Linked DNA regions of Homo sapiens. The protein of the gene in region 3 interacts with the protein of the main gene of each other region in a pairwise test. Each region holds a gene or a part of one and is shown on either strand. Other genes may lie near its edges. The genes, in order: TIMMDC1, CD72, ATP6AP2, NKG7, NINJ1, ZBTB16 and SEC22A.

The links.
Region 1: the proteins of ATP6AP2 (region 3) and TIMMDC1 interact in binary tests that used the Homo sapiens proteins (3 or more experiments, as listed by UniProt).
Region 2: the proteins of ATP6AP2 (region 3) and CD72 interact in binary tests that used the Homo sapiens proteins (3 or more experiments, as listed by UniProt).
Region 4: the proteins of ATP6AP2 (region 3) and NKG7 interact in binary tests that used the Homo sapiens proteins (3 or more experiments, as listed by UniProt).
Region 5: the proteins of ATP6AP2 (region 3) and NINJ1 interact in a two-hybrid assay, tested with the Homo sapiens proteins (one large-scale study listed by BioGRID).
Region 6: the proteins of ATP6AP2 (region 3) and ZBTB16 interact in a two-hybrid assay, tested with the Homo sapiens proteins (one study listed by BioGRID).
Region 7: the proteins of ATP6AP2 (region 3) and SEC22A interact in binary tests that used the Homo sapiens proteins (3 or more experiments, as listed by UniProt).

The regions. Positions count from the first base shown.
Region 1 is NC_000003.12:119,512,047-119,515,546, forward strand, and holds part of TIMMDC1 (complex I assembly factor TIMMDC1, mitochondrial isoform 1 precursor), read left to right. Parts: intron 1-1,594; coding exon 1,595-1,673; intron 1,674-3,500.
Region 2 is NC_000009.12:35,609,482-35,612,447, reverse strand, and holds the end of CD72 (B-cell differentiation antigen CD72), read left to right. Parts: intron 1-528; coding exon 529-644; intron 645-1,694; coding exon 1,695-1,824; 3' UTR 1,825-1,846; intron 1,847-2,147; coding exon of another isoform or gene 2,148-2,298; 3' UTR 2,299-2,466; downstream 2,467-2,966. Other genes in the region: TESK1 (dual specificity testis-specific protein kinase 1), read right to left, coding at 2,706-2,966. UniProt on the Homo sapiens protein: Co-receptor of B cell receptor (BCR) that plays both positive and negative roles on B-cell functions. Recognizes the Sm/ribonucleoprotein (RNP) self-antigen ligand, and coligation of CD72 and BCR inhibits BCR signaling.
Region 3 is NC_000023.11:40,590,970-40,594,469, forward strand, and holds part of ATP6AP2 (renin receptor precursor), read left to right. Parts: intron 1-264; coding exon 265-396; intron 397-3,500. UniProt on the Homo sapiens protein: Multifunctional protein which functions as a renin, prorenin cellular receptor and is involved in the assembly of the lysosomal proton-transporting V-type ATPase (V-ATPase) and the acidification of the endo-lysosomal system.
Region 4 is NC_000019.10:51,371,120-51,373,973, reverse strand, and holds NKG7 (protein NKG7), read left to right. Parts: upstream 1-1,319; 5' UTR 1,320-1,438; coding exon 1,439-1,595; exon of another isoform or gene 1,596-1,666; coding exon 1,667-1,813; coding exon of another isoform or gene 1,814-1,899; coding exon 1,900-2,034; intron 2,035-2,138; coding exon 2,139-2,197; 3' UTR 2,198-2,354; downstream 2,355-2,854.
Region 5 is NC_000009.12:93,127,752-93,131,251, reverse strand, and holds part of NINJ1 (ninjurin-1), read left to right. Parts: intron 1-3,500.
Region 6 is NC_000011.10:114,254,488-114,257,265, forward strand, and holds the end of ZBTB16 (zinc finger and BTB domain-containing protein 16), read left to right. Parts: 3' UTR 1-2,278; downstream 2,279-2,778. UniProt on the Homo sapiens protein: Acts as a transcriptional repressor. Transcriptional repression may be mediated through recruitment of histone deacetylases to target promoters. May play a role in myeloid maturation and in the development and/or maintenance of other differentiated tissues.
Region 7 is NC_000003.12:123,208,443-123,211,942, reverse strand, and holds part of SEC22A (vesicle-trafficking protein SEC22a), read right to left. Parts: intron 3,123-3,500; exon of another isoform or gene 3,006-3,122; intron 2,745-3,005; 5' UTR 2,726-2,744; coding exon 2,544-2,725; intron 1-2,543. UniProt on the Homo sapiens protein: May be involved in vesicle transport between the ER and the Golgi complex.

The DNA.
Region 1 (3,500 bases), on a different chromosome or scaffold from region 3:
TTTGTCCTAAGGAAACAATCAAATGTATAAAAAGATTATTTGTGGAGGGATTATCATCATACCTTTATTTAAAATATCTATAAATAGAAAATCTAAGTGTTAGACAAAAATTTGTGGTACCTCCATGCAATGGAACTAGGTGGGAGAAAACTCAGTGATACAGAATTTAATAATATGTTCTGTGAAAATAAAAAATTTAGTATGTACACCATGGCCCCAGTTTTTGTGTTTTTGTTTTATTTTGTTTTTTTAGACAGAGTCTTGCTCTTTTGTCCAGGCAAGAGTGCAGTGACGCGATCTCGGCTCACTGCAACCTCTGCCGCCTGGGTTCAAGTGATTCTCCTGCCTCAGCCTCCTGAGTAGCTAGGATTACAGGTGTGTGCCGCCATGCCCGGCTAATTTTTGTATTTTTAGTAGAGACGGGGTTTCAGCATCTTGGCCAGGCTGGTCTTGAATTCCTGACTTTCGTGATCCACCCGTCTCGGCCTCCTAAAGTGCTGGGATTACAGGTGTGAGCCACCGTGCCCGGCCCCAGTTGTTGTTTTTGTTTTTTGTTTTATTTTGTTTGGAGGATCAGAAAAAAAGACTAACTTATTACTGACTCTGGGTAATGGGATTAAAGGTGATTTTGATTCTTGTTAATTTTGAAAATTTTAAAAATGAATATATAGTACTTAAAAATATAAACCTCAACTGTTATTTATTTTGTTTTTTGAGACAGTCTCATTCTTCCGCTGAGGCTAGAGTGCAGGAGTGTGATATCTGCTCACTGCAGCCTCCGCCTCTGGGGTTCAAACAATTCTTGTGCCTCCGCCTCCTGAGTAGCTGGGATTACAGGCGTGCACCACAATACCCAGCTAATTTTTGTATCTTTAGTAGAGGCAGGGTTTTGCCATGTTGTCCAGGCTGACTTAGAACTCCTGACCTCAAGTGATCCGCCTGCCTTGGCCTCCCAAAGTGTTGGGATTACAGGTGTGAGCCATTGCACCTGGCTTCAAATGTTATTATTTAAAAAGTGTTACCACCTTAGATGGCATTAGTTGCATTGTGCATAGTGAAAGGAAAATGAATGAGCATGATTGATGCACAGTCCCAGCAGAAAGGAAAGAAGTCTTTCTGTGCACTGGTCACCAGGTAGCATTGTAGGCCAAATGCTGCTTGCTTGTCACCCTGCCTGAGTGGTGCCATGTAGCAGTACAGAGAGAGTGAGTCTAGGGGAAGGCATAAACTGGAGGGGCTAGTGAAGGTTTTTTGCTTTTTTATTTTCCTTGAAGAAAGAAGAAAGAAAGAGAAGGGGAAAAACATTTTCAGATTTTTAAGGAGAGATGGGCAAAAATGAAGCAGAATGAATGGATCCATAGAACATATTGAAGATTTACTTTTGTAGAAGGGATGTGTCTTCCTTTGAATCTGCAGAGTGGATGGGAAGCTACCTGTGTTGGCATTTTAGATTCAGGAAGTATAGGCTGTAGTAGTATATTAACATTGGATTCAGAAAGCTCACTTAGGGATTTCCTTTTTGTAGAAGGAAAGTTTTAAAATAGGATTCTAGTTTTAAAGATGATTTAATATTGCCTTTCTTGTTTTTAAATAGCTGTCACGGGAAGTCTTTTTAGGATAAACGTAGGCCTGCGTGGCCTGGTGGCTGGTGGCATAATTGGAGCCTTGCTGGGGTAAGCATTAACATGGTTTGGTTCTAAATTGGCACAATTTTCATTAATACCTTGCCTATTAAAAAGTCTCATTTATTTTCAAAGAACAAATTTAATCCTTAGAATCTATAAAAGATCTCTAGTCTTGCATTGGCAGTAGCTTTGACTGTCCATTCTAATTCTACCCCAATAGTTTATCTTATTTACAGTTTTTATTTATAGTTTCTTTTACTTAGTAGTTATTACAATAAATAACATTGACTCAATACAACTATCTAAGATAGGGCCCTTATTCAAAATGCCTTTTTACCAGCTAAAACTGTTTAAATATTGCTAACACCTGAAACTATAGTTCGAACACAGGTATTTATGGGAGCAGGGAAAAAAGAACAAAAAACAGTTAACAAGCATATTCTGTAAAAATTGTTAGGATTTTGTTTGTTTTGCTTAATACATTTTTAAAAAATGTTCTTCCTCAATTTTTTACTTTGAACAATTTCAAACCTACAGAAAAGTTGAATGAATTAGTACATTGAAACCCCATATACCCTTCACCTAGATTCACCAGTTGTTAACGCCTTGGTGATATTTTCCATATCTATGTATATGTGTGGGATGTGAATATATTTCTTTTTCTTTCCGTTTGCTTCTTGGCTAAACTGTTTGAGACCTCATGATACTTCACCCCCATATATATCAGCATGTATCTCCCAGGATGAAGAATACTCTTCCATGAAATCATAATACAATTATCACAGTAAACATTGTTTCAACACAACTATCTAAGTTAGGGTCTATATTAAAAACTCCTCAGTTATCATACTAATGCCCACATGTTTCTCCATTTTGTTTGATCATCCCATCATGATTAGATTAATGTATTTTTGTCAGGAATACAACATAGGTGAAGTTGTATCCTCATGTATCACATCAGGAGATATTCTGTCACCCATTATAAGTAATATTAACTTTAATTACTTGATATATTGGTTTTCTGCTGTGCAACAAATTACCACAAACTGAGCATGTATTGCATGTGAAACAACACCCTTGTAGTTCTGTAGATTATAAATCTGGCTGGGTTTCCCTGCTCAAGATTTTACAAGGCCAAAGTCAAGGTCTTGGCCGGGCTAGGCTCTTACCTGGAGGCTCTGGGGAAGAATCTGTTTCCAAGCTCATTCAGGTTGTTGACAGAATTTAGTTCCTTGTGGCCAGGCACAGTGGCTCACACCTGTAAAACCAGCAGTTTGGGAGGCCGAGGCAGGTAGATCACTTGTGATCAGGAGTTTGAGACCAGCCTGGCCAACATGGTGAAATGCTGTCTCTACTAAAAATACAAAAATTAGCCAGGTGTGGTGGCAAGCGCCTGTAATCACAGATACTCGGGAGGCTGAGGCAGGAGGATTGCTTGAACCCCATATACCCTTCACCTAGGCAGAGGCAGAGGTTGCAGTGAGCCAAGATCGCACCATTGCACTCCAGCCTGGGCAACAGAGTAAGACTCCATCTCAAAAAAAAAAAAAAAAAGAGGAAAAACTAAAAAAGAATTTACTTCCTTGTGCCTTGAGGTCTGAGGTCCCTGTTTTCCTTGCAGGCTGTCAGCCAGACTATTCTCTGTTCCTGGAGGCCACCCACATTTCTTCTCCTAGGGCCCCTTTGTGTTTAAACCAGCTACAGCACATTAACCCCTTCTCATACTTCAAATCTTTAACTTCTACTCTGCCACCAGCCAGGGAAAACTCTGCTTTTGAGTGTTCACTCAGATAGCCATCTCCTTTTTCATTATCTCAGATTCAACTAATTAGTAACCTTAATTACATTTCTGAAATCAATTTTGCCATGTAAGAT
Region 2 (2,966 bases), on a different chromosome or scaffold from region 3:
ACGCCCAGCTAATTTTTGTATTTTTAATAGAGTCGGGGTTTCACCATATTGGTCAGGCTGGTCTCTAACTCCTGGCCTCAGGTGATCCACCTGCTTCAGTCTCCCAAAGTGCTGGGATTATAGGTGTGAACCACTGCGCCCGGCCTCTACTTTAATGTGTATCTCATCTCAGCTTGCTGGTCAGCTCCCTGGGCTGCTTGACAGGTTCCTGGACTCTTGTGGCCTCTCAGGCAGAGAGGTCCCACACCTGGTGGGCTGGATTGTAGGGATTAGTTCCTTGGGGCCAGAACAGCACACAGAATGACTCCCCTCCAAAGGCTGGCAGAGATTCTTACTCAGCTGGAAGGCAAATTTAGCAGTGAGCCTGCATCTGCAGGGTGGCACTTGATGGATTCAGGGACAAGTTACCAAAGAGCTGTCATATATACAGCCCCCTTGCCAAAGCTGAGGCCTCCCTAGGGTGTGCATTTTCTTCCATATTTCTCATCACTCTCCATGTATCTCTGGTCTCTCTGAATCTCCCCTCAGCACTCTTACTACTTCTTAAATTCACTGTTGCCAAATGGTGGTTCAGGGAATTCATATTGGACTGGCCTCAGCTCTAACAAGGATTGGAAGTTGACTGATGATACACAACGCACTAGGTAAGTTTGTTAGGACTTCTGGGTATTTTCAACTCCATAATCCCCTCCATAAAGACATGGTAATCAGATTTCCTTCCCACCTGGTCCCCTCAGGACTCTCCCATAAATCAACACTGTAATTGCCTATTTGTCTGTTTCCTCTATTTGATTAATAACTTCTTAGGGCAATCTTATTCTCCATTCTATTTCCACCTAGAAGTCCCTGGCACATACTTTTTTGTTTCAGTAACTACTAGGTTGGGACCTACGCTATCTTTTAGGGGGAGACATTAAGGATTTAGTTAAGGCTCCACAGCTGATGACAGCAGCGTTTCTCCATCCTTCGAGAAGGCCACCCAAACTGAGGTTGTACTTTCTCAGTAGCGGCCACTTGGGGCACTAGAGCTGCCTCAGTGAAGTACGCAAGGGAGCAGCGGGGGTACCATCGAAGCTCCACTTCACTGTGATCAAGACAGCAGTGGGGTACCATTGAGGATCAACCCTAGGGACCCTGAAACAGGGTGGCAACCTCCTTATGTTCCTCAATTGGCCTTCCCATCTTTTTTTTTTTTTTGAGATGGAGTCTCGCTCTGTCGCCCAGACTGGAGTGCAGTGGTGCAATCTCAGCTCACTGCAAGCTCCGCCTCAGGGGTTCACACCATTCTCCTGCCTCAGCCTCCCCAGCAGCTGGGACTACAGGCGCACACCGCCATGCCCGGCTAATTTTTTGTATTTTTAGTAGAGACGGGGTTTCACCGTGTTAGTCAGGATGGTCTCGATGTCCTGACCTTGTGATCCACCCGCCTTGGCCTCCCAAAGTGCTGGGATTGCAGGCATGAGCCACCGTGCCCAGCCTGGCCTTCCCATCTTTAAGATCTCGAGTTATTTTTCCCTCTGCTGGTTCTAAAGTCTGTTTTAGTTGAACTCCAGACATCTGTCCTGAACCATGCCCAGATGTGGCCTTAGGCAGGCAGGGTGAGTTAGGATTTAGGTTTTATACAGGGGAAGGGGAGAGAAGGGAGGGTGGGATATGTCCAGAGCATATCCCAGCTCTACCTTACTACTTTTTAGGACTTATGCTCAAAGCTCAAAATGTAACAAGGTACATAAAACTTGGTCATGGTGGACACTGGAGTCAGAGTCATGTAGAAGTTCTCTTCCCTACATCTGTGAGATGACAGCTTTCAGGTTTCCAGATTAGGACAGTCCTTTGCACTGAGTTGGTAAGAGTGAGGGATGGGGCTGAGGCATGGGGAGTCCAGGGGCAGAGGGACTCAGAGCAGGGACTCAGAGCAGGGGCCCAGGGGCCCGAGAGAAAACTTGTACCTGGGATGAAAGTTCCTCCACAGCCTCCAGTTGCTTGGTCTGCTTGTTAGGGTGGGGTGGGCAGGGAGGGACAGGTAAGGCCTACAACTTATGGGAGGCTGGTGGTGTGGCTGTCGAGAGCTGAGGAGGAGATGGGGTGAGTGGGATGAGGGTTCAGTTAAGTCAACCATGGAGCTCACTGATACTTTACTTTTCCAGACACTCATGCCAACAAGAACCTGTGCCCCTCCTTCCTAACCTGAGGCCTGGGGTTCCTCAGACCATCTCCTTCATTCTGGGCAGTGCCCAGCCACCGGCTGACCCACACCTGACACTTCCAGCCAGTCTGCTGCCTGCTCCCTCTTCCTGAAACTGGACTGTTCCTGGGAAAAGGGTGAAGCCACCTCTAGAAGGGACTTTGGCCTCCCCCCAAGAACTTCCCATGGTAGAATGGGGTGGGGGAGGAGGGCGCACGGGCTGAGCGGATAGGGGCGGCCCGGAGCCAGCCAGGCAGTTTTATTGAAATCTTTTTAAATAATTGCACGTGTTAGTCTCATGTGTCAGCAATGCTGTGTCTGGTTCAGTGATCCCCACGGGAACGCGAGCCGGGGGGTCGACTGGAAGTGCTCTGTCCCTTGAGTCCATGCTGGGGCTCCCCTACACGGGGAGAAGAGCCGGTCAGCCCATCTGGAACTGGCACTGTCCAGCAAGTGTGCTCTGTTCTTACAGGGTGTCCTGAAGGCCAAAGTTGGAGGCCTGAGACCACGGGCTCCACTGCTAAGAGCGTGCCCCAGGCAGCTGCAGGCTGGGTGTGGGTGGCTTGGCGTGGTGCCCTCGGTGGCAGAGGAGACTGCCCGCCTCACAGTTCAGGTTGCGGTAGCGGGCAACAGCTGGTGTGGGGCGGGGGCACATGGACAGGAAGCCAAAGCTGAAGGGGCCGAGGCAGCAGCCAGGACAGGGCAGCCCCTCATCGGGCTCCCGGGGAGCTGAAGGGGGTGGCGAGGGTTCTGTCCGCTCCAGGGCTGCCGCCCGGGGCAG
Region 3 (3,500 bases):
GCTTTTTTCCACAAAAGGTGTCAGATGACTTACTATTGGACTTTATTTCAAATCTGTAAAATTTTAAGAAAATGAAGAGGGTAGAAATCAGCATTCTTGATTAGGGGATTGCAACGACTGCCACAAATAAAATGTTTACTTTCCCTGTGAATTTTCCTTGTCAGTGTCATCTCAGAACCCCTTAACTCTGCTTATTAGATGTTATTGGGGAGGTGGGTTCCTGAGTTGATAATTAAGCACCGCTTTGTGCTTTTCAATGTTTAGGACCTTTCTTGGCCAGGACTCGCAGTGGGTAACCTGTTTCATCGTCCTCGGGCTACCGTCATGGTGATGGTGAAGGGAGTGAACAAACTGGCTCTACCCCCAGGCAGTGTCATTTCGTACCCTTTGGAGAATGTGAGTATTTATTATAAAAAATTAAAGGGATGCATTTTACATTTTCCCTTGTCAGCTGTCATTATGAATTGCATTCTAAACATACTTCTCTTATCTGTTTTTGATGCACAGTTTCTTTTGAAATTCTTTGACAAACACAATTTCTTTTTAAGAAAATTACATGATGATTGTAATTAACTGAGGCTTGGCTGTTCTCTGTGGATGAGAGTACTGTTTAAGATAAGAGATAGAGAAATTGCCCCACTCAGAATAGCCAGAGGCTTGAAAAAGAGAGCCACTAAAGGAGAAACCAGTTGGGGTTGTATCCTGCTACTGTTTTTTTGGCCATTGTCTTGTCATCTTCCCTGCAGGATTTTACCTCTTTTCGTGTGTAAGGACACTGGAGGCTGCTTGCTGGCTCACTTACTCCTTCACTGGCTATTCAGGCAATGTGGGTGACTGTGCTGATCTAAGAGGCCCTCCTTCCATTATAAGCATATAGAAGTGCTTGAAAGAATGTCACAAAAAACATTTTTACTAGCATAACTAAATTTGAATGCAAGAGGGGGTGATATACACAGGTGTTACATATGGATGGAAAACTCAGAAGCCATAGTGGTGAGCAGAAGCTGACGCTGAAACTGTGTTTCCTGCAGAAAGCCAGGGACTAGAAATGCTGTCAACTTGTTCTTGAAAAGCAGACTAGTAAAACTAGTAAAGCTGGCTTGCTGCCCTTGGCTGTTGGACCCAAAGAGTCCCCTGAGATAAATTAGAATTAGAATTATAGGCTTATGCTGTGCAGAGTGGTTCTTTGCAAATTCACATGACCTGCCCCATAGGGACATCTCCATAGCCAAGGGCTCCTTTGGTCAAATACGGAAGATGAGTGGAATTTACAAAGCACCTGAAGGAAAAAAAATGCCATGAGAAACAGGTGCAACAAACAGAATTCATCTCCTTAGAACTACGGAGAATAGGCCAATTTCCAAGAGATCTAAAAATACATACATTAAAATTGTGAAAAAAAGGGCCAGGCATGGTGGCTCACGCCTGTAATCCCAGCTTTGGGAGGCCAAGATGGGAGGATTGCTTGAGGCCAGGAGTTTGAGACCAGCTTGGTCAACATAGCAAGACCCTATCTCTAGGGGGAAAAAAAAAGAAAGAAAGAGAAAAAATTTGTGAAAAAAAGGAAGGAACAGAAACTATGAGGGAGTTATAAGACATTTTTGATACATGGTGCTTTAGCTGATACTTCAAAATATTTCATAATTTATATTGTGATTCTTTAACCCATGAGTTATGTAGAAGTATTTTTTCCAAATGCATGGGTTTTAAAAAAGTAATTTCTAATTTTTAAATTTCTAAGTTCACTGCATTGTAATACTGTGGTCTATGTGATGCTGAAGTTTTGGGATTTTTTTTTTTTTCAGACTTTCCTGTGGTCGAGTATAGATTATTTCCAAGTACACATGGCATACTTAGAAAAAATTACTGTGCAGTAGTCCACAAGGCAAATCTCAACAAACAATAAAGAATCAGTGTCATATAAACTAACTTCTCTGACCACAATGCAGTTAAATCTGAAAATAATAATAAAATGATATCTTAAAAGGGTATTTGGAGCCCGGCACCATGGCTCACGCCTGTAATCCCAACACTTTGAGAGGCCAAGGCGGGTGAATCACTTGAGGCGAGGAGTCCGAGACCAGCCTGGCCAACATGGCTAAACCCTGTCTCTACTGAAAATACAAAAATTAGCCAGGCGTGGTGGCACGCATCTGTAGTCCCAGCTACTCAGTGGCTGAGGCACGAGAATTACTTGAAACTGGGAGGTGGAGGTTGCAGTGAGCTGGGATTGCGCCACTGCACTCCAGCCTGGGTGACAGAGCGAGACTCCATCTGGGAAAAAAAAAAAGGTATTTGGATCAACATTTCTCCTTTCCCCATCCACCCGTCTCCCCCAGCGTCTTCTAACCATCATTCTACTCTACTTCTATGAGTTCAACTTACAAGTGAGGTCATGTAGTATTTGTCCTTCTATGCCTGGCTTACTTCACTTAACATAATGTCCTCCAGGTTTATCCATGTTGCAAATGACAGTTTCCCGCGCTTTAAAGGCTGTATAGTATTCCATTATGTTTATATACCACATTTTCTTTCTGCTTTTTTCTTTTTTTTTTGAGACAGAATCTTGCTCTGTCGCCCAGGTTGGAGTGCAGTGGCGCAATGTCATCTCACTGCAACTTCTGCCTCCTGGGTTCAAGGGATTCTGGTGTCTCAGCCTCCTGAGTAGCTGGGATTACAGGTGCATGCCACCACGCCCAGCTAATTTTTTGTATTTTTAGTAGAGATGAGGTTTCATCATGTTGGCCAGGCTGGTCTCGAACTCCTGAGCTCAGGTGATCCACCCACCTCAGCCTCCCAGTGGATCTCAGTGCTGGGATTACAGGTGTGAGCCACTGCACCCAGCTGCACATTATCTTTATCCATTCGTTTGATTATGGACACCGAGGTTGCTTCCATCCATATCTTAGAAATTGTAAATAGTGCTGCAGTGAACATGGGAGTGCAGATATCTCTTCAGCATACTGACTTCAATTGCTTTGGATATATATACCCAGAAGTGGGCTTGCTGGATCATGCTTTAGTGATCTATTGCACAAAATGGTGACTATATTAAATAATAATGCATTGTGTATTTCAAAATTGCTAAAGGAGTAGATTTTAGATACTTTTACCACAAAAAAAATATAAGTATGTGAGGTGATGGATTTGTTCATTAGCCTGATTTAATCAGTCTACTTTGTAAACTTATAACAAAACATAACATTGTACCCCATAAATATATACAGTTACTATTTGTCAGTTAAAAATAAAATAAAAAGTATTTGGAAATAGTAACAAACAGAAGATAACAACTCCTCAGATTTAAAGCATATGGAACACCCAGTAGGCAAAAGCCAGATCCACACCTACATACGGTGAAATTGAAGAGTCATCAAGGAAATGGAAAATCTTAAAAGCTGTGAGGGAGAAAAGACACTGTCATTACAAAGGAATGAGAGTAGAAGGAAAGCAAGGAAAATGTAGTGATTGTGTAGTATGAGCTAGGCTGAGTATTATTT
Region 4 (2,854 bases), on a different chromosome or scaffold from region 3:
ACAAGAGTGAGACTCTGTCTCAAACAACAACAACAACAACAACAAATGCCTGAGACTGGGTAATTTATAAAGGAAAGAGGTTTATTTGATTCACAGTTCAGCATGGCTGGGGAGGCCTCAGGAAACTTACAATCATGGTGGAAGGTGAAGGGGAAGCAAGCCACTGTCTTCACAGAGTGGCAGGAAGAAGGCCAAGCGAAGGCAGGAAGAGCCCCTTAAAAAAACACCATATCTTGTGAAAACTCACTCACTATCACAAGAACAGCATGGGGGAAGCCGGCCCCATGATTCAATTACCTCCACCTGGTCTCTACCTAGACACGTGAGGATTATGGGGACACAATTCAAGGTGCGATTTGGGTAGGGACACAAACCCTAACCATATCACCGTTTCACAGAGGTCAAGTTTTCCTGGGCCTTCTACCTGGGCTGTGGTACCGTCACCTTATACCTGCTCGTAGATGAGGTGTTGCCAGGACCTGATGGTGTGGATGGAAGAGGCTAGCGTTTGGGGGGCTGGAGAACCCTAAACCAAAATCCTTATGTCCCCCAACACCCCCTAGGCCCCCCGATCCTGGTGATAAAGGCCACCAGGCTGGAGCCCCCACCCAAGCAGGGATGCCACTGAACTCATTAATCAGATGAGGATGTGGGTATGTCTGACTCTCTGCAAACCTTTCAGAATTGTGATTCTCTGCTGTTTGCCTGCCCTTGGCATATGCTCCAAACTGGGGCCCAGGATTCTGAGCTCCTGCCCGCCTCTTCCTCCCTCAGGACCTGGAGTTCAGGCCCCCAGCTCCTTCCTCCTTAAGCCCCAGGAGTTCTAACTCCCAAGTCCCCTCCTTCAGTAGAGACCCTAGACTTGGGGACTTCCTCTCCCAGAATGGAAGACTGCATAACCCACAGGAAAGCATGACACATCCCCAGCTGTCCCCTCCAGCCACATCTGCCCTCCCCCTTAATGTACACCCTAGCCTGATTGGCTTCCTCCCACCTCAGGGCCCCCAAGCCTCTCTCTCTCACCTCTTCCAGGAAGCCCCGACTTGGTGTTGAAGGTTCCATGGGTGGGAGTTGTAGAATCTGTGACAGAGGCAAGTACTAAACCACCGCCCAAACCACTGATGATCTGACACCCTCAGTGCCCTCCCCCATCACACACTAAGCGGGGAACTGGACCCCAGGGAGGGGAGGGAGGACGTTGCCTGTGCAATCCAGGAAGGGAGGGTATGTGAAAAGCTACCGGGAACTGTGTGAAACCAAACCAGCCTCATGTGACAAAGCGCAGGACCCCTCACTGCCCCAACTGCTTGCTGTTCTCTCTTTCTTGGGCTCTAAGGACCCAGGAGTCTGGGTGCACAGCCTCCTTCTCTCTGAGATTCAAGAGTCTGATCAGCAGCCTCTTCCTCCTCCAGGACCCAGAAGCCCTGAGCTTATCCCCATGGAGCTCTGCCGGTCCCTGGCCCTGCTGGGGGGCTCCCTGGGCCTGATGTTCTGCCTGATTGCTTTGAGCACCGATTTCTGGTTTGAGGCTGTGGGTCCCACCCACTCAGCTCACTCGGGCCTCTGGCCAACAGGGCATGGGGACATCATATCAGGTAAGGGGAATGGGTGTCCTACAGAGGGGTTGCCAGCGGGGATGGGTGCTCAGTGGTCTTCTCCCGATCAGGCTACATCCACGTGACGCAGACCTTCAGCATTATGGCTGTTCTGTGGGCCCTGGTGTCCGTGAGCTTCCTGGTCCTGTCCTGCTTCCCCTCACTGTTCCCCCCAGGCCACGGCCCGCTTGTCTCAACCACCGCAGCCTTTGCTGCAGGTAAGGACTCTGGACTGGACTGGGGCATCGCGAGCCAGCGAATTCCTGCCGAGGAGCTGAGCCATCTCTCTTGTCCTTGTCCCCAGCCATCTCCATGGTGGTGGCCATGGCGGTGTACACCAGCGAGCGGTGGGACCAGCCTCCACACCCCCAGATCCAGACCTTCTTCTCCTGGTCCTTCTACCTGGGCTGGGTCTCAGCTATCCTCTTGCTCTGTACAGGTGACTATCCTGCCCACTGCCCTGGGGAGCTTTGGGAGGGTCCAGTTGGGGTCCCTGAGGACAGAGGGCAGGGGCAAGTGCTTAAACTCTTTCTGGCTCCCCAGGTGCCCTGAGCCTGGGTGCTCACTGTGGCGGTCCCCGTCCTGGCTATGAAACCTTGTGAGCAGAAGGCAAGAGCGGCAAGATGAGTTTTGAGCGTTGTATTCCAAAGGCCTCATCTGGAGCCTCGGGAAAGTCTGGTCCCACATCTGCCCGCCCTTCCAGCCCTTCCCCAGCCCCTCCTCTTGTTTCTTCATTCATTCAACAAAATTTGGCTGGAATCTGGTTATTTTGAGATTAATTCTGCCAAGACATAAGCCAACTGTCTGCCAGCTCCATGGTAGGAGCTGGGCACCAAGGGAAGGTGAGGGCCCACCAGGCCGACCAGCCTGCAGGGCGCTCCTGCCCAGTACGAGTGCCCGGCCCGTGTGGACACAGGCTCCAACCCGTGTCTATGTCTCCCCTTCTCCAGCACTTTTCTTCCTCCCTGTGTCTTTCTCCCTTTAGCTGGCTCTCTTTCCTTCTCTCTCCCTCTCTGATTTTGTCCCCCTTGCCAGAACTCAGCCCTTCCTTGCACTCAGTCAGTTCTCTTTGCACATTTCCCCATGCTGGGGACACTGGCACGGGTCAGACCCAGGCCCTGCCCAGCAGGGGCTCAGTCTGTGGGGTGGTGGGGAGGAGGCACTTACAGACCAGAAGCAGTTAATACAGGCCAGACAGCAGTCCCAGTGCAGGGAGAATGCCGGAAAAAGACTGACCATATTGTGGAGGGATGGAGACG
Region 5 (3,500 bases), on a different chromosome or scaffold from region 3:
CAGCACTTCCTGCTGTCTTGCTGGGGTTTCCTGCCAGGAACACAGACATGGAGCTGGGAGACCCTCTCAGGGCCTGCTTCCTGGGCTGGCCGGTAGGAGACGGTGCAGGGCTCCAGTGCCAGGCCCTGCCTGTCTGTGTGGCATCTGGGGAATGGGCACAGCAGCTCATGCCCACACTGGTGGGTCAGACAAGGGATGCCGGAAGCCCCAGGCAGGTCCTAGCATATGGTGGGGTAGAAGAGGGGTGCCTGATTTTCAGGTCGCCCCACCATCTGCCAATGCCTGCTGAGTCCAAGGGTTAGGGCCAGTGAGCAGGACAGGCTGCGAGCAGCCAAGGTGTAGACTGGGACCCCCCAGGCACCCAGGGCAGGCACCTCGTCCCTGTTGTCCCCCTGGGTCCTGCTCAGCACAGGAGAACCTGTGCCCCAGGCTGTCCTTTCTTTGCTGTGTGACTGTTTTGTGAGCCTGTTCAGCTGCTTTTGAGTCAGTGGAGTTGGTCGGGGAGGCAGAGTCTTTCAAAACAGTGAGAGCCAGGCATCAAGGAAAACAGCCCTGCCACCCACTGCCATGCGCTCCACCAGCCACGGGGCATCTGAGACCACCCCATTCAGTCCCCTCCACATCCTTGTCTACCCATTTTACAAATGAGGAAACTGAGGCATAGAGTGGTCAGTGTTGAGGCAGGACTCGGGGGGTAAAGGAGGTGCTGTGGCAGCTTCCAGCCCTACTCCTCACAGGCCCCTGGAAAGGGCGACTGATATGCATCACCACATTTGTGGGCCCACAGCCCCGACCCTGTCTCCTCCCATCCAAGCCCTGGGTGAGCCAGAACACCCATTATGCTATGGCCAGAGCCAGGCCGGTGGATGCAGCAAGCCTGGTTCATATCCCACTTCTGTGCCAGCCCCTCCTGCCTGAGCTGAGGATGCTCACTGAAGTGGCCCTAGGACCGACCGTGTGGCCCAGCCCCAACATGTGCAGCCTGCAGTGGGGAGGCCGACCGTCCACAGAAGGTTGCATGAGGAGCCAGCCACGCCCCTACACAGAGCTGACCTCCTCACCAAGCCTCCCTCCTAGCTTTCAGAGGAAATATATCTGGCCTGGCCCCAGGCCCCGAGTGCTGCTGAGGTTCTGGGAATCTATTAACCAGGGTGTTTATTCCCTGCCCTGCCCAAGCCATGGGCACTGGTCTCAGCAGGGCTTAGCTCCTGGCAGCTCCTGCTGGCTGGTCAGGACCACAGGGCTCCCTCACCTGTGGTAGCTGGGTCCCCCGGCCACCCTCAGGCCCATCCCAAGATAGAGGCAAGTGCCCAGGACTGGGGGAGAGTGGGATCGTCCTCCCTGGGACCCTCCTGTGTGGTGGTCAGCTCAGGGCTCCAAGGCCCAGAGTACCAAGGTTAGGGACAGGGAAGCAGACTGTCCCTGCTGCCCTCCCCTCCACATGATGCTCCCAATGTGGCCTGCTGCCTGGGGTGGTTGCCAGCTATGCTGTATCCTGGGGCAGCCCTATGCTTTGGGACACACAGTCCTGGGAGATGGCTCTGGGAAAACCTCCTCTGAGCTGCAATCTGCTGGTCTGTAGAATGGGAGAGGAACACAGCCTCTCCCTTGGTAAGCAGGAGTTTCCCAGGTGCAACCCTAGATATACGGAGGGGGAGACTGAGGCCAACGGAGGGGGAGCTTGCGTCAGGGCCACGGGCTGGGCTGTGGTGAGCCAGGGCTTGACCTGCATGCAGAAGCTTCCCTAGCTGCAGGTTGGACAGGAAGCAGATGGCCGGATGGGCTGGAAGTGCCCTTCACCAGCAGGGGTGCATGGTCAGGGCATTTGCTGGCCACTCGGGGCTCAGAGGCCATCCTGGGGCATCTGCTCCACAGCCTCGTGGTACACATGGAAGACTGAGGCACAAAGTGGGGCTAGTTGTCCGGACACAGCTGGAGCCTGAAGCAGGGAGCCATTGAGAGTTCAGCCCCTAAGGGACAATGGCATCAGCTACCAGAGCTTCTGAGCCCCGGGGCCTGGGTTCAAATCCTAGCCAAGCCCTCACTTGCTATGTGGCTTTGGGTAAGGAACCGCCTTTGCTGGGCTTCAGTTTACCCACCTTAAGTGGGCATGAGGACAGCAGGGGCACAGGCTCCTCGTGGCTGGGGGTGCTGAGAGCTGAGGCTTGGGGAGCTGGAGGCTCTGCGCGGATGGTGCTTTTTAATGGATCTGAGTGTTCCTCGTGACTGCATGGCTGTGAAATATTTAAATGGTTCTGCAGAGCTCAGAAAAAAAGGGAATTCTTCCTCCTGCCCAGAGGCCAACACAGTTAGCCTGGGCTTGTGTGTCTGTTTATGTACGTGTGCATATGTATGTATGTGCATGTGTATTTGTGTGTGCGTATTGTGTGCACATGTGTGTCTCACGTCTATGTGTGTCTTTCTGGGGGATGTGTGTTTCTGTGCTTTTGTGACTAGGAACACGCACATATATGTGTAGATGCCCCCAGAAGGTGGAAATCCTCACGGGGTCTGCACTTGGCCTTCTCCCAGCACCAAGTCCTGGGATGGAGACCCGAATGAGCATAAGGGTGGCCTTGAAGGAAGGCACTTTGGCACTTGAGGTTTGTGAAACTTAGGAGCACATGCCCACTGTGGCCAGCAGCCCCTGGGACACTGCACCTTGCGGAGCACACGTGTGATGGGGTGTGGCCCACTGGGCAGCTTCGCAAGAGCAGAACTGGAGACGACCTCAGTGCCAGGCACAGGCCCTTGTGTCCGGGCTGTCCTCACCCAGACCCTGGGCAGCCTGGGAGGAAGCCCCTAAGTGGACAGTGGTGGGACAGGGACACACAGTCCTGGGAGGTGGCTCTGGGCAAACCTCCTCCAAGCTGCAATCTGCTGGTCTGTAGAATGGGAGAGGAACACAGCCTCTCACTTGGTGAGTGCCCTGGCTGTGCTGGGGCCTGGGGGAATCCCAGGGAGTGCAGCGTCAGGCCCAGGGTGGGAGAGGCAAAGTAGACACCCCATAGAGGCTTCGGGGTATGCATGGAGTGACCCGAGAGCACACCAGGGCCCCAGGGACAGCGCTGCTGGGTGGCCCAGGTAAAGGCGGCTGTCCCTGTGCGCACATGTGTCCACGTGAACTTGCTACTTAGAGAGCAGCTGATGCTGAAGGCAGGTTGTTGGAATTCCCAGGCCCAGGTGTAAGCAGCAGAGCCCACCAGTGTCCCCTGACGCCCACTCTCTTCCTCCTGGGCACATAATTTTAGATGAAACTGAAAAACACGCAGCATGAAAGCAAGGCCCCTGCCCTCTGCTGGTTCTGTATTGGCTGCCTCGTGTATTTTTCCAGCCTGCAGAAAGTCGAGGCCTGGATGGATACCATGTCCGCCCCTCCCTGTGGCCCTGCGGCACCCCGGCCTCCCGGCCTGCATCTTTCATGAGTCTGGAAACAGGATCTCCCAGAGAGGGCCCCAGGAGGTTGGCTGCCAGCAGTGGGTTCTCACAGCTGCCTCCAA
Region 6 (2,778 bases), on a different chromosome or scaffold from region 3:
CATTGAGCTTACCTCCCTATAGGGGAGAGAGCAGAGGTGGGGCAGCCTTTCGACTCTGTCCATGACGGCTGGCAGGGTCAGGGTAGTTTCTGGGCCTGCTTCCCGGCAAGCCGAGCTAGGGTGAAAACTGGGGGCGCACCAGGATGTGAGACAGAAAAGCAGAAGATGAGACTCTGTTCATTCACTTTTCCTAGGCCCATCCTGTGGTCATCTTTCCCCCTCCCATCATACCTCCTCCTTCCTGGAGCCTCTGCCGGCTTGGCTGTAATGGTGGCACTTACCTGGATATTTCAGTGGGAGGATGAAAGGCGAGACTCACCCTACGCGGTGGGACAGATGGGGAGAGGAAAAAGGCAGAGATGGCCAGGAGAGGGGTGCAGGACAAACCAGAGAGGTTGGGTCAGGGGAAAAGGGTGGGGAGAAAGAGGGGTGCAGGCCCTGCAGGCCGGTTAGCCAGCAGCTGCGGCCTCCCCGGGCCCTTGGCATCCAACTTCGCAGACAGGGTACCAGCCTCCTGGTGTGTATCATAGGATTTGTTCACATAGTGTTATGCATGATCTTCGTAAGGTTAAGAAGCCGTGGTGGTGCACCATGACATCCAACCCGTATATATAAAGATAAATATATATATATATGTATGTAAATTATAGCACTGAGGGCCCTGCTGCCCTGCTGGACCAAGCAAAACTAAGCCTTTTGGTTTGGGTATTATGTTTCGTTTTGTTATTTGTTTGTTTTTGTGGCTTGTCTTATGTCGTGATAGCACAAGTGCCAGTCGGATTGCTCTGTATTACAGAATAGTGTTTTTAATTCATCAATGTTCTAGTTAATGTCTACCTCAGCACCTCCTCTTAGCCTAATTTTAGGAGGTTGCCCAATTTTGTTTCTTCAATTTTACTGGTTACTTTTTTGTACAAATCAATCTCTTTCTCTCTTTCTCTCCTCCCCACCTCTCACCCTTGCCCTCTCCATCTCCCTCTCCCGCCCTCCCCTCCTCCCTCTGGCTCCCCGTCTCATTTCTGTCCACTCCATTCTCTCTCCCTCTCTCCTGCCTCCTGCTGCCCCCTCCCCAGCCCACTTCCCCGAGTTGTGCTTGCCGCTCCTTATCTGTTCTAGTTCCGAAGCAGTTTCACTCGAAGTTGTGCAGTCCTGGTTGCAGCTTTCCGCATCTGCCTTCGTTTCGTGTAGATTGACGCGTTTCTTTGTAATTTCAGTGTTTCTGACAAGATTTAAAAAAAAAAAAAAAGGAAAAAAAAAGAAAAAATGAATTTACTGCTGCAGGTTTTTTTCTCTCTCCATGTGTCACTAAGTGAAGTTTGTGCCTTCTATAGCAAAGAGAATATTTTTTACATCCTACTAACAGTAGATTTTTTTGTAGTGAACATTTTTTGTATTTTTATTTATAAGTCTCATAAGAAAAATAGCAATGTTCAGTTGTATACCTTGAATCTGCAGTTAGAAGAGAATAAAGTTAATTCAGTTGTCTCTCGCTTGAAGCGTCCCACCTTTTTATTGAAGTACTTGGTTTTGTTTTGTTTTTTTTTTTTGTTTTTTTTGCCTTTTCTTGTGTGGGGAACATGGTAGAGGAATTAAGATTTTTGTGTGGGGACTGGGAAAAAGAAAGCTCTGTATTACACATATTTAGACTTATCTATGTGTCACTTTTATGCCACATTTACAAGGCACAGATGCACTGAATAACATTTTTCTAATACTTTTTAGTTAAAAAATGTTAAATACGTTAATATCGTATGATCCTTGGTACAATGTGCTAGGTAGGCACTTGTTCACTTATTCAGCAAGACCACCATGTACCAGTTACTGTTGTCGGCGCTGGGAATTACAGCAAAGGACAAACAGACAAACCCTGGCCGCCCTGGGGCTACCATGCTAGCGGGCCGCTGAGTCGGAATCCGTGGCTGTGTTAGGATAACTTGCTCAGGATTGCACGGCTGGTGAGCAGCAGTCAGAACTCCATCCACCTCTCCTGATACCAGGCCAGGTTCCTTTACTCCAGAGTTCTCAAAGCAGGGGTCTCACGTCTTCTTTAGTCTTTAGAGAGACATTTTCAACTGACTCCTTAGTGGCTAAGCAAGCTTCAGAAATTTCTCAACAAGAAGCTTCCACACAATCAAAGGTCCCTGCCTGCGTCTGTAGCAGCCAAGAGCTGTTAAGAAAGGAGATTGGAGCAGGTGGCCTTGTGCAGGGGAGGGGATGGGTGGGAGGTGGCCGTGCAAGCTCTGCATTGTCATGGACGGAATAAAGGATTTCCACAACACTCAATGGGTACGATTCCCTCCCTGTCTCATCTCCCTGTGTCTGGGCCAAGCCCTCTTCTCTGGCCCTTTCCCCGTTCCTCTTATCGGGGATAGAAGCATCGCCCTATCTTTAGCTGTAAAACCAAAGCCACTCAATCCTAGACGTGGTGCTTCAGCACCTCTGCCTGAGGCCGTCCTCACTGCCTGTCTCTGACCAAAATAACCCCTCTCCTCCTCAAGACCCAGGGGACACAGCCATGATTGTCGTGCTGGGTCACTCCGGTAGGGTAAACCCACACCGAGCATCAGGCCTGGCCTCCAGCATCACCAGGAGTCGCAGGGAGCCATCACCCCACGCGCCACCGCCACCCACCTGGGGAGCCAAACAAGGCCTGGCCTGCCAGGGGTGGCACTGGGAGGGTTACCTTTCAGCCCTGTTCTCCTGGGGCCAAGACCCGGGTCTGTCTGACCCTGGGGTTGCTGAGCAGAAACCGCCTGGAGCTACCCCTACCACCGGACA
Region 7 (3,500 bases), on a different chromosome or scaffold from region 3:
TGGGACTATGTCACGCCTGGCTAATTTTTTAGTTTTTTGTAGAGACAGGGTCTCCCCATGTTGCCCATGCTGATCTCAAACTCCTGGGCTCAAGTGATCTGCCTGCCTCGGCCTCTCAAAGTGCTGAGATTACAGGTGTGAGCCACTGTGCTTGGCCTAAAACCTCAAGTTAAATAATTAAAGTGGGCCAGGTGCAGTGGCTCATGTCTGTAATCCCAGTACTTTGGGAGGCCAAGCAGGAGGATCACTTGAGCCCAGGTGTTTGAGGTCAACCTAGGCAACATGGTGAGACCTCATCCCTACTAAAAATAAAAAAATTAGCTGGGTGTGGTGGTGTGCACCTGTAGTCCCAGCTACTCAAGAGGCTGAAGTGGGAGGATCACTTGAGTCCAAGAGGTTGAGGCTCAGTGAGCTGTCATCATGCCACTGCATTCCAGCCTAGGTAACAGAGCAAGCCCCAGTGTCTTAAAAAAATGATCAAAATGGAGCTTCATTATCTTTCTCTTCTGCCTCACACCTCATAAACAGTCTGTTCCAAAGATCTCATTTCTGGCAATGACACCAACATTCTGTCCAATTCCAAGGCTTCAGTCATCTTTGCCCCTTCCTTCTTTTCATCTCTGGTATTCCATCCTATCCAGCTTGGTCACTTCTTTTGAAGTGATCCAACTTCAAAGTGATCCCCAATCAAACTATTTCTCATTATCATTCTAGTTCTTTTGGTGTTCTAATTTTCATTTGCACGTTTATTTTCTTACTTCAGGCCCTAATAAGTTGGCCTCTCTGCCTTATCTCTCTCCTCTTGGACTGTCCACTCACCCTAAGTTCCACTGTCTCAGGATTGTTTTTATCAAGTCACTTCCCTTGAACCTGCAGCACAGCTTCCTATAACATATTACATCAAAGTCACGTCCTTCAATCTGAACTTTCAGGGCGATCCAGGATCTGGCCCCACAATGATTATCACGCATGTCTCACAACTATCCATAAATCACCATCCACTGACCCAGGATAAGCATGTTAATACACCTACCATGCTAAGTCACATTCTTTGCTTATTCTGCCTCTCCTCCGTACACCTGGAATGCCCTCCTCCCTGCCTTAGCCAACTCTTATTAATTCTTCAGGACATGGCTCATGTCTCATCTCAACAACGAAGCCCTCTGCTTATTATATCCTATATGGACTGTGTTTTTACCTTATTTCCTTCTGTATGCATAATCAATATCCAGCTTGATATCAGACATTAATTGTTCTCTAATTGTTTCACGTCTAAGCTTTCCAAGGTGGTCTCATCCATTCCCATGGTTTTAATCACAAACTGTAAGCTGACTTCCAAATCTAAATGTCTATACTTGTCCTCTTCACTAAGCTTCAGACTCATATATCCAGCTGCTTACCTAGCAGTGCCCCTTGGATGTCTAATGGGCATCTCAGATTTAACATGTCCAAACAGAACTCTTACTTTTTACCAAGGAGACGCACTTATCCTCTCCTTTCTTGCTCATTTCAGCTACATTATTCATCCAGTTCCTCAGGCCAAAAAACTACAGGTGATTATTCTTCTTTTACCTTCACATCCTATTTCAATCCAGTAGGAAGATTTGCTGGTATTAATCCCAAAATATAGCCCCAATCTAACTACTTCTATTCATTACTACCCTAGCTCGTTACAATCAGCACCTCCACCTGAACTTCTCTGAGTCTTCCATCTGACCTCTCTGCTTCCACTTCCTCCTTTATTCTTCACAGTGCAGGCAGAATGATCTACTCTAAGCCAAATGAAATCATGTAACTCTATAGCTTAAAACTACCCAATGGCTTCCTACTGCATTAGACTAAACAGACTAATAGACTCCAAACTCACTACATAACTTGCCCCATTCCTACCTTTCTGGCCTCACTTTCTGCAACTCTATTAATTGTCCATAATTCTTCAGGATCACTGGTTTTCTTTCTGTCTCTTGGCATGTAAAAAAGGGCTTCTCCACTGGCTGCTACCTCTGCCTTGCTCTTCATCCACAGCATCCTTCATATAATTACCTCCTCTCTCATCTTTTAGGTCTCTGCTCAAATGTCACCCTCTCAGAGAGTGTCTTGACCACAATAAATAGTCACTCTCTATCCCATTGCCCAGTTTTACTTGATTTGTATGTGACTCAGTGATAAGTGCTACCCCCTCCCACTAGACGTAAGTTGCTTCAGTTCTTTGAGGGCAGATATCAGGTAAAAAATTTTTATTTCCAATTATAGTTTGCTTACTACAACCCTAGGTATGTAAGAATGCAAATAAATATTTAGTGATCAACTTAAAAGAGGGATATCTATGATCTGCACAACTATAAAATTTCCCAGAGCCAGATACAAAGAAACTACAAAAAGGCTGCTGCTGACATGATGACTATTTAGTATAAGTTCAGAACAATATGATGCTCGACTTGAACAGGTTTTCCTAATCACTCCTTTCTATTGCAACCACTTAAACTTCATTAAAATGACAACTACTGGGCAAATGAGTCAAATGAAGCAAACTGAAGTCTTACTTAATGTTATAATGTCCAGTTTTCAGTGTACATCTATCAGGAAGTTGAGCAAGTTTCCTCGAAAGCATTTTAAAATACTTTCTGCACTCCTGCATTCCTGTGCTTTGTTCATAATCAGTAGAAGCAGAAAGTGGCAGTCCATCTCTGACACGAATGACTGAGGCAGATAAAATCATAGACATTTCAACCAACAGAGAAGACCTAAAACAAAATGAACAATTTGGGTTACATAAAAATTAAAGCCAAACTTGATAAGCATATGTAAAAATGTTCAACTTACTAGTAATATAAGAATAGTAATTAAAATGGCCAGGTGTGGTGGCTCACACCTGTAATCCCAGCACTTTGGGTGGCTGAGGAGGGTGGATCACAAGATCAGGAGTTTGAGACCAGCCTGGCCAACATGATGAAACCCCTTCTCTACTAAAAATACAAAAATTAGCCAGGCGTGGTGGTGCACACCTGTAATCCCAGCTACTCAGGAGGCCGAGGCAGGAGAATTGCTTGAACCCGGGAGGCAGAGGTTGCAGTGAGCCGAAATCGCGTCACTGAGCTCCAGCCTGGGCGACAGAGTGAGACTCCGTCTCAGGAGGAAAAAAAAAACAAAAAACTAATTAAAACAACATACTATGCTTCACTTAACATATAGCTTTTGTTTTTTGTTTTTTGTTTTTTTTTTTGAGACAGCATCTTGCTCTGTCACCCAGGCTGGAGTGCAGTGGCGCCATCTTGGCTGACTGCAACATCCCCCATCCAGGGTTCAAGCAATTCTCATGCCTCAGCCTGGGTTCCCATGCCACAGCATAGGATGTGGCTGGGACTATAGGCGCCTGCCACAGTGCTGGGATTACAGGCATGAGCCACCACACCCAGCCACATTAGCTTTTTAAAAAATAATACTTCTGTCTGGCATTCTCATAAGTACAGATGGAAGTAAAAACTGGTACAAACAGTTCT